2 separate regions of the Homo sapiens genome follow, and region 2 is reported to be linked to region 1. Evidence: microRNA targets listed by miRTarBase, many of them from high-throughput screens and not tested one by one. Region 1 holds a microRNA gene; the other region holds the end of a gene's coding sequence.

The links. The annotated mature microRNA hsa-miR-3680-5p reads GACUCACUCACAGGAUUGUGCA and lies in region 1 at 4,480-4,501, shown strand. An mRNA with a match to its seed (bases 2 to 7 or 8) in the 3' UTR can be bound and repressed. Matches are read on the target gene's strand: a 7mer-m8 pairs with bases 2 to 8, a 7mer-A1 pairs with bases 2 to 7 and ends in A, and an 8mer does both.
Region 2: miRTarBase lists FCHO2 as a target of hsa-miR-3680-5p. Seed matches in the 3' UTR shown: 7mer-m8 at 6,395-6,401.

What each region holds. Positions count from the first base shown.
Region 1 is chr16:29,596,614-29,603,731 of GRCh38, reverse strand. It overlaps MIR3680-2 (microRNA 3680-2), which reads left to right and starts at 4,467; the gene lies at 4,467-4,553. It overlaps LOC105371168 (a long non-coding RNA gene), which reads right to left and starts at 5,941. Exons shown (of 2, transcript XR_950984.3): 1 at 5,910-5,941; 2 at 77-1,344. It also overlaps the pseudogene SMG1P2.
Region 2 is chr5:73,087,523-73,094,640 of GRCh38, reverse strand. It overlaps FCHO2 (FCH and mu domain containing endocytic adaptor 2), which reads right to left. Exons shown (of 26, transcript NM_138782.3): 25 at 6,888-7,052; 26 at 4,119-6,573. The coding sequence ends at 6,551. Among named protein-coding and RNA genes, the nearest start is that of TMEM171, 29 kb to the left of the region's middle.

The DNA of each region.
Region 1 (7,118 bases):
CATGACCTGAGCTCGTTTTTCAGGTTAACTTTGGAATATCCCTTTGGCCAATAGGAGTGGTCCCTTCAGTCAGTTACGGGGCTTAGAATTTTATTTTTGGTGTACGTGCTCAAACTGCAGCTGCTACAAAACCAAGGCCACGGTGACCCCGGGGCCAGTCCAGCTTTGTCCCTGTGCTCTCGAGCTGCTGGAGGCCAATGCAGGATTCTGCCCACGGCTCACATGTGTGGCTTCAGACCCTGAGGGTTCTTGGGGCTGTGTCTTCACCTGGTACTGTGTAGGGGCCCTGTGAGCTGAGTCAACTGGAAGAGCCCAGAGCCTCTGCAGAAGGCCTGAGCAGGGCCCGGGCACTGTCCCTGGAGCTCTGAGTCCCTCAAGCTGTGTGGCCCGGAGCCAGGCGCTTGACTTCTCTGGTTGTTTGCTTCAGAGCTGGGAGCCTGGGGTGGCGTAGGTCTTTGGCAGGGGTCAGGTAGGGGAGGGGCCAGCCAGGAATCAAACATCCCTGACAGGTGAGGGGGCAAGTGAGGAGGGCAGGGCAGGAGCCCCTGGAGCACTTGTGCAGCAGCATCTGGACCGGTGCAAGCCCTGAGATGGCTTCAGGTCCTGCTCAGAGCTAAGGGCTCCCCGTCACCAGGGATTCTTCCATCACTGCACCTGCAGAGCCCATCGGGATTGGGGAGAGGCCCTGGCCTTAGTTTGGAACAGCTGCATCCGCCTGTCGGGTGTACAGGCTGTGCACTGGTTAAGCCTGAGCACAGAGTCTGTTCAACAAGTTCATTGTGTGGTATTTGCTTCCGCTTGCTGTTGAGTTGGACTGGCCTGGATGCTGGCCAGGAGCCCAAGTGGACTTGGTGCTTCTCTTTGACAGCCAGGATTGAAAAGCCTAGTTAAGTGGGCAGAGCACGAGGGTGAGATTTAGGAGACCTGGATGTCCTCACTTTGCCGCCCAGGAACTGCTGTGTGACTTTCAGCAAGTGGGACAACCTCTCTGAACTATGTTTACCCCAGCTATAAAATGGAGGTGTTGGATTGGCTGCCACAAGTGTCCTTCCACCTCCACAATACCGTGACTGGAGCGGGTTTTCACTCCTTTTTCTTGTTAGCATAACTGTTGGAGCTATAGAGGGTTTGGAGTGGGGTATGGGTTTCTGGGCCACAGATGTGTGAGGCTCCGCACTTAGCCAGCAGTGGCAACTCCTTATCACTGGTGCCCATGGCTTCATCTGTGCCCTGAAGATACTCATGCTGCAGTGACTGGTCAGATTAATGGTGATGCTTTCATGGGGCGCCGTAAGACATGTCCGCGAGGTATTTCGCCCATGCAACGGGAGGCAGTGTTCCAGTCTGTTGGAGACATGAAAGGGAGGCTCAGTCCCTGCAAAGGAACTTGCCCGAGTTCACACAGCATTTCAGCACTGGGTGGCCTGGCTTCAGAGTTTCAGAGGGAGGGGTGGCCCTTCCTGTCGGTCCTGGGGGTCTCCTGGAGTCAGGACCCTTGGGAAACCCAAATCCACCAGGACGCTTGCATCAGGAGAACCTGACTACATGAGAAGCTGCCCTTTTCCGGTTCTCCTGCTTACCCTTGACTTGGGGTGTCGGCAAATTTCAGAGCTTGCCAAATCTGCATCTTCCTGGCCTGTTTAAAATGAATGTGTCAGCCCCATTCTGGACAGCAGCTGACACCTCCTCCCCCGTGCCAGCCAGGACAGTGTGGTTGGGCGTAACTCAGCCCCGGTTAAAAATGGAAAAAAGTACAAAGACATGTGTTCAACGGCTGGTGACAGAATTTGAAAATGTGACACCAGCCTGTTAGTAATTTGTTTTCACAGAAACCTGATTCAACACTGAGCAGACAGGTGGGGCCAGGGCCTTGGGATCATCTCTGTTCTTGCCCAGGGACATCTGTATGTCTGGCCCAAAGCGGGGGCCTTGTGCTCTGCAGAGACTGGACATCAAAATTGAGCCATTATAAGCAGACCATCCTGGCCAGGCACGGTGGCTCACGCCTGTAATCCCAACACTTCGGGAGGCCAAGGTTGGCGGATCGCCTGAGGTCAGGAGTTCGAGACCAGCCCGGCCAACATGGTGAACCCTTGTCTCTACTAAAAATACAAAAATTAGGCGGGCGTGGTGGCAGGTGTCGGTAATCCCAGCTACTGAGGCAGGAGGCTGAGGCAGGGGGCAGGAGAATCACTTGATCCCCGGAGGCAGAGGCTGCAGCTACTCGGGAGGTAGAGGTGAGAGAATGGCTTGAACTCAGGAGGTGGAGGTTGCAGTGAGCCAAGATCGCACCATTGCACTCCAGCCTGGGCGACAAGAGCGAGACTTTGTCTCAAAAAAAAAAAAAAAAAAAAAAAAAAAAAATGGAAACACTGCCTTTGCTTCCCTGCCCCGGAACTGCTTCATTTTCCTTGGGGTTTCTGGACCACTTTGACCTCTCTCTGTGGCCAGCAATGGTGGGGAGGTGGGTGGATCTGGAGCTGGCATGGGCAGGCTCAGCATTCCAGCCCATTCTGGGGTGAGGTTGGCCTTGGGTGAGGACAGGGGTCACTGGGTCAGACATTCATTTTCTGGAGCCCAGGGGTGGTGACGTGTCCATCAGGGAAGCACGCGCCTGTGCTGGGGGGTGCTCCCTGGACCAGCAGCGCCGGCCTCCCTGGGACCTTGTTCTGTGCAGATGTGTTGTCTCCCTCTCCCCCGACCTGCCTGATCAGAAGCTCTGGGTTTCCATCCCGCTCCCCGACCACTGCTTTTACAAGTCCCCCCAGGGGATGACACGGGAGATGGTGGGGGCTGTCTATCAGTGGAGAAGGTGGGCGCTGTCTATTGGTGGAGATGGTGGGGGCTGTCTGTCGGTGAAGATGGTGGGGGCTGTCTGTCGGTGGAGAAGGTGGGGGCTGTCTGTCAGTGGAGATGGTGGGGGCTGTCTGCCGGTGGAGATGGTGGGGGCTGTCTGTCGGTGAAGATGGCGGGGGCTGTCTGTCGGTGGAGAAGGTGGGGGCTGTCTGTCGGTGGAGATGGTGGGGGCTGTCTATCAGTGGAGAAGGTGGAGGCTTGTACTCAGAGCAGGGGATATTTAGACTTGAAGGGGCCAGGGAGGAAGGTACTGGTTCTACTAAGCCCCATGTTCACTGGGCAGCCACTAAGTTTGGGACCGTGTGTGTACTGAGTGGATTCCGACAAAGAAGCTGTCTCAGGAGCCCCAGCCAGCTGCAGAGGGGGGCCCAAGCTCCAAGGCTGGGTGTCAGGTTTGCCAGGTGCTGGTTCGGCTAGGGGCCGCAGGCTGCGCTGGGCGGGACTGGGCTGGGCTGGTACCTGTGCCCGGTGTCAGGCCAGCTGTAGTTGCAGCGGTCAGCTGCCGCTCTCTGGCCCCATGCGAACTGCTGTGCCAGGTGCACCCTGGGGGACCAGGCTGCCTGGGCTTCCTGGAACTGGTGAAGTTGCCGCCACTTCCTCTATGCTGTCTCCAGCAGGCAATTCTGGGTAAACGATCTTCATTTGCCTATAAAGCTGCACAGCTCACAGGCCTTGGATCGTTTCTGCCCAGCCCCAGCATTGGCCCTTTGGACAGACTCTGAAACTGTGCGCAGAACGCACCCTGTCATTACAAATGACTCCTGGAGGCAGTCCCCGGGGGCCTGGCAGGAGCACCTCTGTTTCTGTTGGGTCTGAAAATGACAGACCAATTGCTTGAACCCAGGAGGCGGAGGGTGCAGTGAGCCGAGATCGAGACATTGCCCTCCAGCCTGGGCAACAAGAGCAGAACTCCGTCTCAAAAAAAAAAAAAAAAAAAAAAAAAAAAATCTTCACAAATGTAATTTGTAATGGCTGCAGAAAATTTCAGCTCTGAATGTACTGCATCCTAATCAGTTTCCTATTGTTGAGAATTAGTATAATATCCAGGTGTTTTGTTTTTGTTTTGCTATTAATAAGTAAAGCTGAGATGAATACTTCTGTATCAATCTTGATCCTTATTTTAGATAATTTCCATTTCATTCCTCCCATTTCTTGCGTGCTTCCTATGGTCAGGTGCTGTGCTGTGTGCTGAGTATGGAGGAGGTAGGCTGAGATAGACGTGACCTTTGCTCTTGCAAAGCTGATATCCTAAGGGTTGGACAGATGCTAAATGTGCAAAGAAACCCAATACTTGCAGATGGTGCTGGGTACTACCAAGGAAAGAAATAGGGTATATGACAGAGTACCTGGAAAGGGCACTGGCCAACTTTTATGGGCAGGGAGGTCAAAGCAAACCTGTCTGGAGATGAGACAGGCCAGGAAAATCAGGGCAGGGGCCAGAGTAGGGCAAATGTGGTGTCTAGAGCCTCATTTTTTTAGACGGATTCTCGCCCTGTTGCCCAGGCTGGAGTGCAAAGGCAGGATCTCGGCCCACTGCAACCTCTGCCTCCCAGGTTCAAGCAATTCTCCTGCCCCAGCTTCCTGAGTAGCTGGGATTACAGTACAGCCTCAAATTTAAGGAGGGACTCACTCACAGGATTGTGCAAATGCAAAGTTGGCTTTTGCATGACCCTGGGAGTAGGTGCCTCCTTAAATTTTGCACCCTCAGCAACTCCATCCCCTGTCACTTTGCTAGTCCCAACCCTGATGGGAACAAATGCAGGGAAGGCATTCCAGATGGCGGGAACAGCAAGTACAAAAATCCAGAGGCCAGAAAGGCTTGGTGTGTTTCAGGAACAGAAACTCGGTTCCCATGACTGAAATGGAGTAGGGAAATCCTAATGGAGCCAGAGAGGCAGAACCACCAACAGGAAGAAGAAAAAAATGTTGGAAGTTATGAGAGTTGCTCACGTTTGATTCATTTGATTAATTTTATTGAAATGGAGTCTCACTCTGTTGCCCAGGCTGGAGTGTAGTGGCACGATCTAGGCTCACTGCAACCTCCACCTCCTAGGCTTAAGTGATTCTCTCATCTCAGCCTCCCAAAGTGCTGGGATTACAGGCGTGAGCCAGCATGCCCCACCTGAAGCAATTTCTTTGTTGTCTTTTTTTTTTTTTTAACTTCTCCCATAGAAATAATTAACCCTCAAAAAACACTCAGTGTTGACAAAGGGTGGTGTGAGGACACAGAAAGTATCAGACTATCATTGGCAGAAACTTCCTGGAAAGCAACTTAACAGTCTGTATCCAAAGACTTAAAATCATTAACAGCCTTTTCCCCAATAACTCCACTTCTCGGAATCTATCCTAAGGAAATCTGCCACAGCCAGAGTGATTTTTTCCGTCCCCTTAAGAAATGGTCTCATCCTGTTGCCCAGGCTGGAGTGCAGCGGCACCATTATGGCTCACCACAGCCTGAAACTCGTGGGCTCAAGCGATTCTCCCACCTCAGCCTCCCAAGTAATTGGGATCACAGGCATGCCTCCACATCCATATGCCTAGTTGGATAATATTTTGACCAATAAAGAAAAAGAGGGCCAGGCGCGGTGGCTCACGCCTGTAATCCCATCACTTTGGGAGGCCGAGGCGGGTGGATCACGAGGTCAGGAGATTGAGACCATCCTGGCTAACACGGTGAAACCCTGTCTCCACTAAAAATACAAAAAACAAAATTAGCCGGGCTTGGTGGCGGGCGCCTGTAATCCCAGCTACTCGGGAGGCTGAGGCGGGAGAATGGCTTGAACCCGGGAGGCAGAGCTTGCAGTGAGCCAAGATTGCGCCACTGCACTCTAGCCTGGGCGACAGAGCGAGACTCCTTCTCAAGAAATAATAATAATAAAATAAAAAAATAAAAAAGAAAAAGAAAGGTAGTACCAGAGATTGTGTCCAGTTGCTCAAGCAATTTCTAACTTGTCTAATTTTAAAATTTTTTAAATTTTTATACAAAATTAGCCAGGCATGGTGGCATGTGCCTGTAATCTCAGCTACTTGGGAGGCTGAGGCAGGAGACTCACTTGAACCTGGAAGGCAGAGGTTGCAGTGAGCTGAGATCACACCATTGCACTCCAGCCTGGGCCACAAGAGTGAAACTCCGTCTGAAAAAAAAAAATTTAATTTTTTTTTGTAGAGATGGGGGTCTCACTATGTTGCTCAGGCTGGCCTATAACTCCCAGGCTCAAGGATCTTCCAGTCTCAGCCTCCCATCACTGTAATTACAGGCATGAATCACTTCACCTAAATGATTTTTTTTTTTTTGAGACAGTCTTGCTCTGTCACCCAGGCTGGAGTTCAGTGGCACGATCTCGGCTCACTGCAACCTCTGGCTCCCGGGTTCAAGCAATCCTCATGCCTCAGCTTCCCCAAATAGCTGGGACTACAGGTGTGCGCCACCATGCCTGGCTAATTTTTGTATTTTTTTGTAGAAACGGGGTTTCACCATGTTTGTCAGGCTGGTCTCTTGACCTCAAGTGATCCACCCACCTCGGCCTCCCAAAGTGCTGGGATTACAGGAGTCAGCCATCCATGGTGCCCTGCCTTTTCTCTTTCTTCTCCTCCCTCCCTCCCTACCCTCCGCAGCCCAGGCTGGAGTGCAGTGGTGGGATCATAGGTCACTGCAGCCTCCACCTGCTGGACTCAAGTCATCCTCCTGCCTCACCCTCCTGAGTTCCTGGGACCACAGGCACGCGCTACCACGCCGGGTAATTTTTGTAGTCCCCATCATTTAGAACTGGCAGGATCCTCCCTTAGTGAGGGATTGGTGGCCATAAGCAAGGAGCCCAAGGTGGAGGGGATATGCATGTGTGTGGAGGTGTCAACTCCTCATAATCTTCAAGTACTTTTGGTTACAATTTTTAATTGCACAAGCGATATATAAAGACGTTTTCTTTGCAACATAAAATGATAGGTTAAGACTCCTTATGCAGATAAGGTTTAGACACTTGTTTAAGGAGCATCCTGGCCCACCTTTTAAAAAATGTGTATGCATTCACTTTATGCATCAGATGGTTTAGGGAATTTTTTTCCCTGGGGCATGGGACATGTCATGGGGTAGATGGTCAGGTACGTCTCCTCTACCCAGCTGATTCTCTTTTTTTTTTTTTTTTTTTTTTTGGAGACGGAGTCTTGCTCTGTCGCCCAGGCTGGAGTGCAGTGGAGCGATCTCTGCTCACTGGGAGCTCCGCCTCCCGGGTTCACGCTATTCTCCTGCCTCAGCCTCCGGAGTA
Region 2 (7,118 bases), not on the chromosome of region 1:
CAATCACCAACCTTAAAGGTCACCTTACCTCAAGCAGGTACCCTGGTTGCCTGTCATACTGAAACATGCTTCATGCAAATAGCATGAAGATGGTTTCAAAGTATGCCTTTACACTTCCTGAACAATTTGAAATTCACTCCATAAGTTCCCCAACTAATGGAAATATTTTATTGACAGAAGGTGGAAAAACCAAATAACCTAATCTTTGTTGCAAGCTCATCACTCTTTAGGTTACTCTTTTTGGGAATTTCAATGGTGTAAACAGTCACTATTCATTGAGTATGTGATGACATTAAGGTTCTGAACTTAAAAGGCTCTTAATTTTGCCAAAGGCTAACCTCTGTCACTTCTCTGGATCACATTTTTTTTTCTTTGAGACAGAGCCTTGTTCTGTCACCCAGTCTGTAGTGAAGTGGCATGATCTTGGCTCACTGCAACCTCCACCTCCTGAGTGAAAGTGACTCATGCCTCAGCCTTGGGAGTAGCTGGGACTACAGGCATGTGTCACCACACCCAGCTAGTTTTTTGTATTTTTAGTAGAGAAAGGGTTTCTCCATGTTGGCGAGGCTGGTTTTGAACTCCTGAGCTCCGGCAATCCGCCCACCTCAGCTTCCCAGAGTGCTAGAATTACAGGCGTGAGCTACCGCACCCGGCCGACACTTTTCTTAAGAGAGTAATTTGGGCAAAATATATTCCCAGAAAAAAAAAACAAACTGATCCTGTATCCACTTAGGGAAAACAAAATATGACATTTGGCTTTGAGACCAAAAAGAATAAAAATTAGATCAGCAATCTACTTCATACGTTAACAAACAAAACAAAACAAAACAAACAAAAAACCTGGCTATATTGGTAGGACCACGTAAGGCAAGGCAATAATCAAAATAGGAAGATCCTTATGTGAAGAGATCTTTGTGCATCAACAGAAAGTTCAACTTGCACTCTATGCAACTATTTTCCAAAACATAGTTAGTTTATAATTGTAGATGTAATATGTACTAATTATAAAAAAATTTAGATAACACCTAACATATTGTTAAAAATAAAAATCCCACCACCTATAGATTATAACGGCTTGGTGAATGCTTTTGCAAAAAGTTTTGCTCTAGATGTATGCTTTTTTTTTTTTTTTCCTCACTCTGTCACCCAGGCTGGAATGCAGTGGTGCGATCTCGGCTCACTGCAGCCTCCATCTCGTGGGTTCAAGTGATTCTCCTGCCTCACCTCAGCCTCCCAAGTAACTGGGATTATAGGCATGCGCCACCATGCCTGGCTAATTTTTGTATTTTTGGTAGAGATGGGGTTTCACCATGTTGGCCAGGCTGGTCTTGAACTTGTGACCTCAAATGACCTGCCCGCCTCGGCCTCCCAAAGTGCTGGGATTACAGGCGTGAGCCACTGCGTCTGGCCTGATGTATGCACTTTTAAAAACAAAAATGGCATATTACCTTTTACCATTTAATAATATTGTGGTAATATCTCAATATCAGTGACTGTGGATCTTCACAATTATTTTTAAAAGCCGCATAGTGTATCACTATATGGGAGTTATCAACTCAGCCAACCCTCTCAATTTTGCATACTATAAACAATGTTGCAATAAACATCTTTGCATACATAATTTTGCTTATGTCTCATTATTTTCTTAGGACAAATTCCCAAGTGAATGACTAGTTTACATGATACATAGATTAAAAAAAAATTTTAAAGCCTTTGGATTCAAATCGTCAGAAAGATTATACCAGTTTACTGTTCCTAAAAAGTTGAATACTTAATTAAGTTCATCCTGCTCATTGCTGAGTTCACACTATTTAAAAAATGGGTTAAAAAGTTGATTGGGATAGGTGCAGACTTGCTTGGCAATATGCTATATGGAAACATGCCTGTACCAGCAGAAATTCTGTGTCTGATTGCTGGCCAGCTTACTTCCAGCCATTCCTAGGCCCTTCTCCTTTACCCACCTTCATTATGAAGGCTACTTGTTTTCTCTGCCTGTCTTACATAATTCAGGCCAACAGAACGTAAACAGATACGAGCTGGGAGCTTCTGGAAAAACTTTTACTCTTCGTACAAAAAAAAGACAGACATACTGGAACTGTCCCTCCTAGCTGTGGATGTAAACACATACAGTCTGGAGCTATGGCTGCCATACTCCAACCGTAAAGAAAGGGCGAATGACTTGTTCTGACCAATGCCAACAAGAGGTAACTTGAGCTGTGATATGAAAAAAATGTTTAAACCAGGGGACCCCAACCCCAGACCACAGACTGGTAGTGATCTGTGGCCTGTTAGGAACCACGTTGCACAGCAGGAGGTGAGCAGCAGGTGAGCAAGCATTACTGCCTGAGCTCTGCCTCCTGTCAGATCGGCGGCAGCATTAGATTCTCACAGGAACGGAAGTCCTATGGTGAATTGCGCATGTGAGGGATCTAAGTTGTACGCTCCTTATGAGAATCTAACTAATGACTGATGATCTGAGTGGAACAGTTTCATCCTGAAACTATCTCCCCACACCGCTTCATCCATGGAAAAATTGTCTTCCACAAAACTGGTCCCTGGTGCCAAAAAGGTTGGTACTGCTGGTTTAAACCATTCTTAGTTCTGTTTCTGTTACTTGAGGCTAAAAACATTACTGACAGATAAAACACTCATGCTAAAAAGATAAGCAGTGGTTTCTGAGTTATCACAAATGTTCATTCAGAAACGATCATTAGGAGGCGTATGGAAATAATTATATATATTTAAAAATATGGATAAAATAGCTACATACAGTAAGAAATCATGGAAAAAACCTTTAATACTGAGAGCCACTGAAACCATTAAATGCACATTAGGAAAAAGGAACAAAGAAAATAACAAAATGGAGCAGGGGTGGGGTACATGGCAGAGGTTTACTCTGTGTTTATCAAAACCCCGTTTTCTTCCTGGGCACATAACCAAACTACATTTCCCATCTTTTTTTGCAGTTGGTTGGAGCCACAAGATCAAATCCTGGCTCATGGAATATGGTCAGAAGTGATGATGCCAATTCTTCTGGGCCTGGCCCATAAAAACTCCCATCTAATCTTTGCTTTTTCTTCATCTGCCGGCCAAATGAAGATTTTAAGCAGAATCACAGAATGGGAAGAGCCTGGGCCCCTGAATTACTATATGGAGCAGAACTCCTCCTCAAACCTACTTATGACTGTGATAAGAGCAATGTAGTAAGTATTGTGCTTAGCTATTGCAGCAGCTAGCATCATTTAGTCTAACAGAGGTGGGAATGGGATGAAGAGGAAAAAGGAAGAAAACGATGGGCATATGGTATGAATGGTGAGTGCTATCAGATCTTTCCACAGGTTCCTCTGCCCTGGCCTACCTAGATAAATTAAGCTGTTCCTTTTTTAACACAGATTGGCAACATTTTTTCTTTTTTTCAGACAGGGTCTCACTTGGTCACCCAGGCTGGAGTGCTCTGGCACAATCTTGGCTCACGGCAACCTCCACCTCCCGTGTTCAAGCACTTCTCCTACCTCAGCATCCCGAGTAGCTGGGACTACAGGCATACGTCACCATGCCCAGCTAATTTTTATATTTTTTGGTAGAGTTGGGGTTTCACCATGTTGGCCAGGCTGATCTCGAACTCCTGACCTCATGTGGTCTGCCCACCTCGACCTTCCAAAGTGCTGGGATTACAGTAATGCGCCACTGCACCCAGCCCAAAATTTTCAATAGTTAGGATAAATTCTTTCTTTTCTAATTTCCTTCTTTTGCTCCTTCCTAAATTTACCATTTTGGGAGGCTTGATTGTCTTAACTAATTCTTTGGAACATTATGATTTTTGAACTGTCTGAGACTGTGTTCCTGAGCAACTGGTTAGGAAGAAAGTCTGCAAAAATTTAACATCAATTTAAATATATCTTAAAATATATTAAAAATAATCCCTTGTTAAACAATTTTGACACTTTGGGATATACTCCAAATGAAGCTTTCTATATAACCAATAAATAACAGTTCGATCTGTACGCCTGTTCAAACAGTAGTACAAAGTTAAAAACCAATTACTTGGCCAGCTTGCCTTGTCCTAACATTATGATATAGCTATTACTATCAAGTACAAAGACACATAAACCAATTGATAAATTATATATTACATGTTTATTAAGAGCACAACTTTTATGTAAAATTTACATTTAATGAAAAAAATCAAAAATATTTACAAAATCTTGGAAGACAGATGTGCATTGTTCTAATTACAATCCAAAGTAGTAAATAACAATCCTTTAAAACTCACATTTATTAGAGTTGTGTTTACAAATTCTTGGTTAAAGAGGCAGCTACAAAGTTTATCACTATATATAAGCAAGAACCAGCTTGCTAGGTACATTTCCCATTGAAAATCTACTGGTCTCTTTTACACCATTAGTGGATTTTTAAATGGAAAAAAAAAATCAATATAAACTCATATGGCTTCAAAATTGTAACCTGTACCCAATACTTGGTATGAAGACTGTGGTAACTAAGAAAGTGCAGAAGTTTAACCATTTCACTAATTTGTACATTTTTAGGTAATATTTGATTAAAAACAAACACGGTAAGAACAGTGTCTGAATTCCAATAATAAAATATTGGCTGCCCTAAAAGCAGTTTGATTGCAAAGCAAATTACAGTTAGAATTCCAGTAAGGGACTGTAATTGGCATTTAAAAGAGCACAATATAAGAGTTAGAAATTCTAATTTAGCTCACTATTTAGTAAAGATTAGCATTTTAGCAAATTATCTTATGTGCTGCTTTAGTCAAATGTAAATTCAGACTTGGGCTAACATTGAATATATAAAAAAGCATATACTGTGTTATATATTGCTAAAGAGTAGATTTTCTGCTGTATTTAGTACAGCAAGATGTTACATAAATGTCTAGTAATAGAGGTTTTATTTTCTGTGAAGCTTAACGGAACAATTAGTGGTTTTATATAAATTATCATATATAACACAATTTATCACTTCTACTAGGCAAATAAAGGACACTCATATTTATTATTATAAATGAAATTCCCATTTGTAAATTATGAAACCTTATCCGAAATATTTTATTTCTTCAATTAATCAAGATTTGCTACTAAAGTTAGGTTTCTTACTATTTAGTATTGGTAGTTTATTTTTAGAAATGTTTAACCAAATATATCACTTCAAATAATTTCCCTATTTTTACAAAGTAGAAATTGAATAATTAAAATGTACAAATTGGTAATTTTTCCAATTGTTGAAATAAAAACAAATGGCAGTGCTTCTCCTTCTGTTTCCAAAATTAATCTTTTAAAAAATGCATCCCTCACAAAATACCATAAAACTCATGTTCACAACACAATCAGTAAATAAATGCATAAATTTTCAATGATAAAGTATCAAGGAAAATGCTAAATTGAGAGTTAAAATACCAGTTACCAATTTAGCACTATAGTTTTTTTAGAATTTGTTTTAAAATTCACACACTTTTGATGAGGTTAATGTCAAGTATCTGAAGGTAATCTTTCTTCCTGTAAACACATGCCATTGGGTTTATTTCTCTTTCTAGTGGCTACAGTGTATCACCAAAGAAGTGAGCCAGGATTCTTAAGTTAGGCTTTATGACTCTGAATCCCCTTCCCAGTTGCAGGCCAAAAATATTTACAAAAATTGCAAATATCTTATAAAAATGCTTGATCACTGTAAGATTCTGAACAGAAGATTCAGACTGAGAAAAAAAGTGAGGCACATTAATGAACACAAATTGTATAGGCACATCTCTGGTTTTTGTTATTGTTTTAAAAGGCACACATTATGCAATTCCATATAAAAATAAATTAAATCTACAGCATTAATTCATCAAAAAAATCACAACTCCTATAAAGTTAACTAACTGCAGAAGTAAATGTCTCTGCTGTCATTTGCAAGCTTATTTTAAAACACATTGCACTTGAGAATTTTTTTTAAAAATCATATAAAACATCACTTATACTTTATTAATATGTTTATGAGAATCAAATTATAGATTTTTTGCATACAACTTGGACTCTGGTCTGATTACCTTATGGCACATAGCTCAATTTGATTAAGTGTTCTGAGTTAACATTACCCAAAACTTAGAATTCATGTTCTATTTGTATCCACTGAATATCAAACTTATGAAATTTCAAAGTTATCTCTGACTCTAAAAATGTATGGAAAGCTAAATTACTTTGTGCTTGCTCTTCTGAAACTTTAGGCCTGATATTACACTATAACCCTTTTTTTCAACATAGACACTGGAAATAATTTAAAAATTAATCCTACAAAAACTTCATTTTTACTGAGAATCTGAATAAATGTGCTTCCTGAATATTGTAGTTGATCATTTACAACATAGAGAATCATTTCAGTACTATTTATTTCAATGACTCACTTTAAAAGTGCGATTTAATGTTTGTAGTCAGCTCTCAAATATGTCTAAGTTTGAAAGACATCATACAAGTTAAAATAGTGTTTGGAAAGAACAGATAATGCAGAATGGCAGGTTTGTAATCCCTGAAGCCACATCACTTTCCCAGGTCCATCAACAATCCGCCAGGTATCGTCCTGAAAAACGCCAAGCAGACCTTTGCAATTACAATTTCAAATGCACTCTAAGGACATTTTCCACTGTGGTTACCAATACAAAACTCTAGTTCCCATCTGCTATTTACAGTACATTAGAATCAGATAACAGGTGTTCAGCTATACTGACCGTAAGAACTCTCTCCCAGGTGTGTCTCTACCTGGCACCTTGTACCAAGGGTTAAAGAAAAAATTTCCATGTCTTTAGATTATAAATTGCTTGACAGTTTTTTAATAACTGTTAGAATACAAATGTTTCCCATGTACATTAAAAAGTTTGAAATCTCCTAACTTACCAGTAGCAAACCGCTTCTTTATTAAGGAAAGCCTATAGCCAGTGCCCACAAGTTCGAAATCTACTCCTGAAAGGGTACTTCCCTCGCTGAGGAATTGTACTGCAAGTGTCGTGGGTTTACTAGGTCCTTCTGAAAGATCAAATTTTGCTCGGAGGGACCCAGAACCTACAAAGAAAAGAATAAAGCACTTACACAGGGTAAAATACATTTCAAACAAAATAGAATCAAATG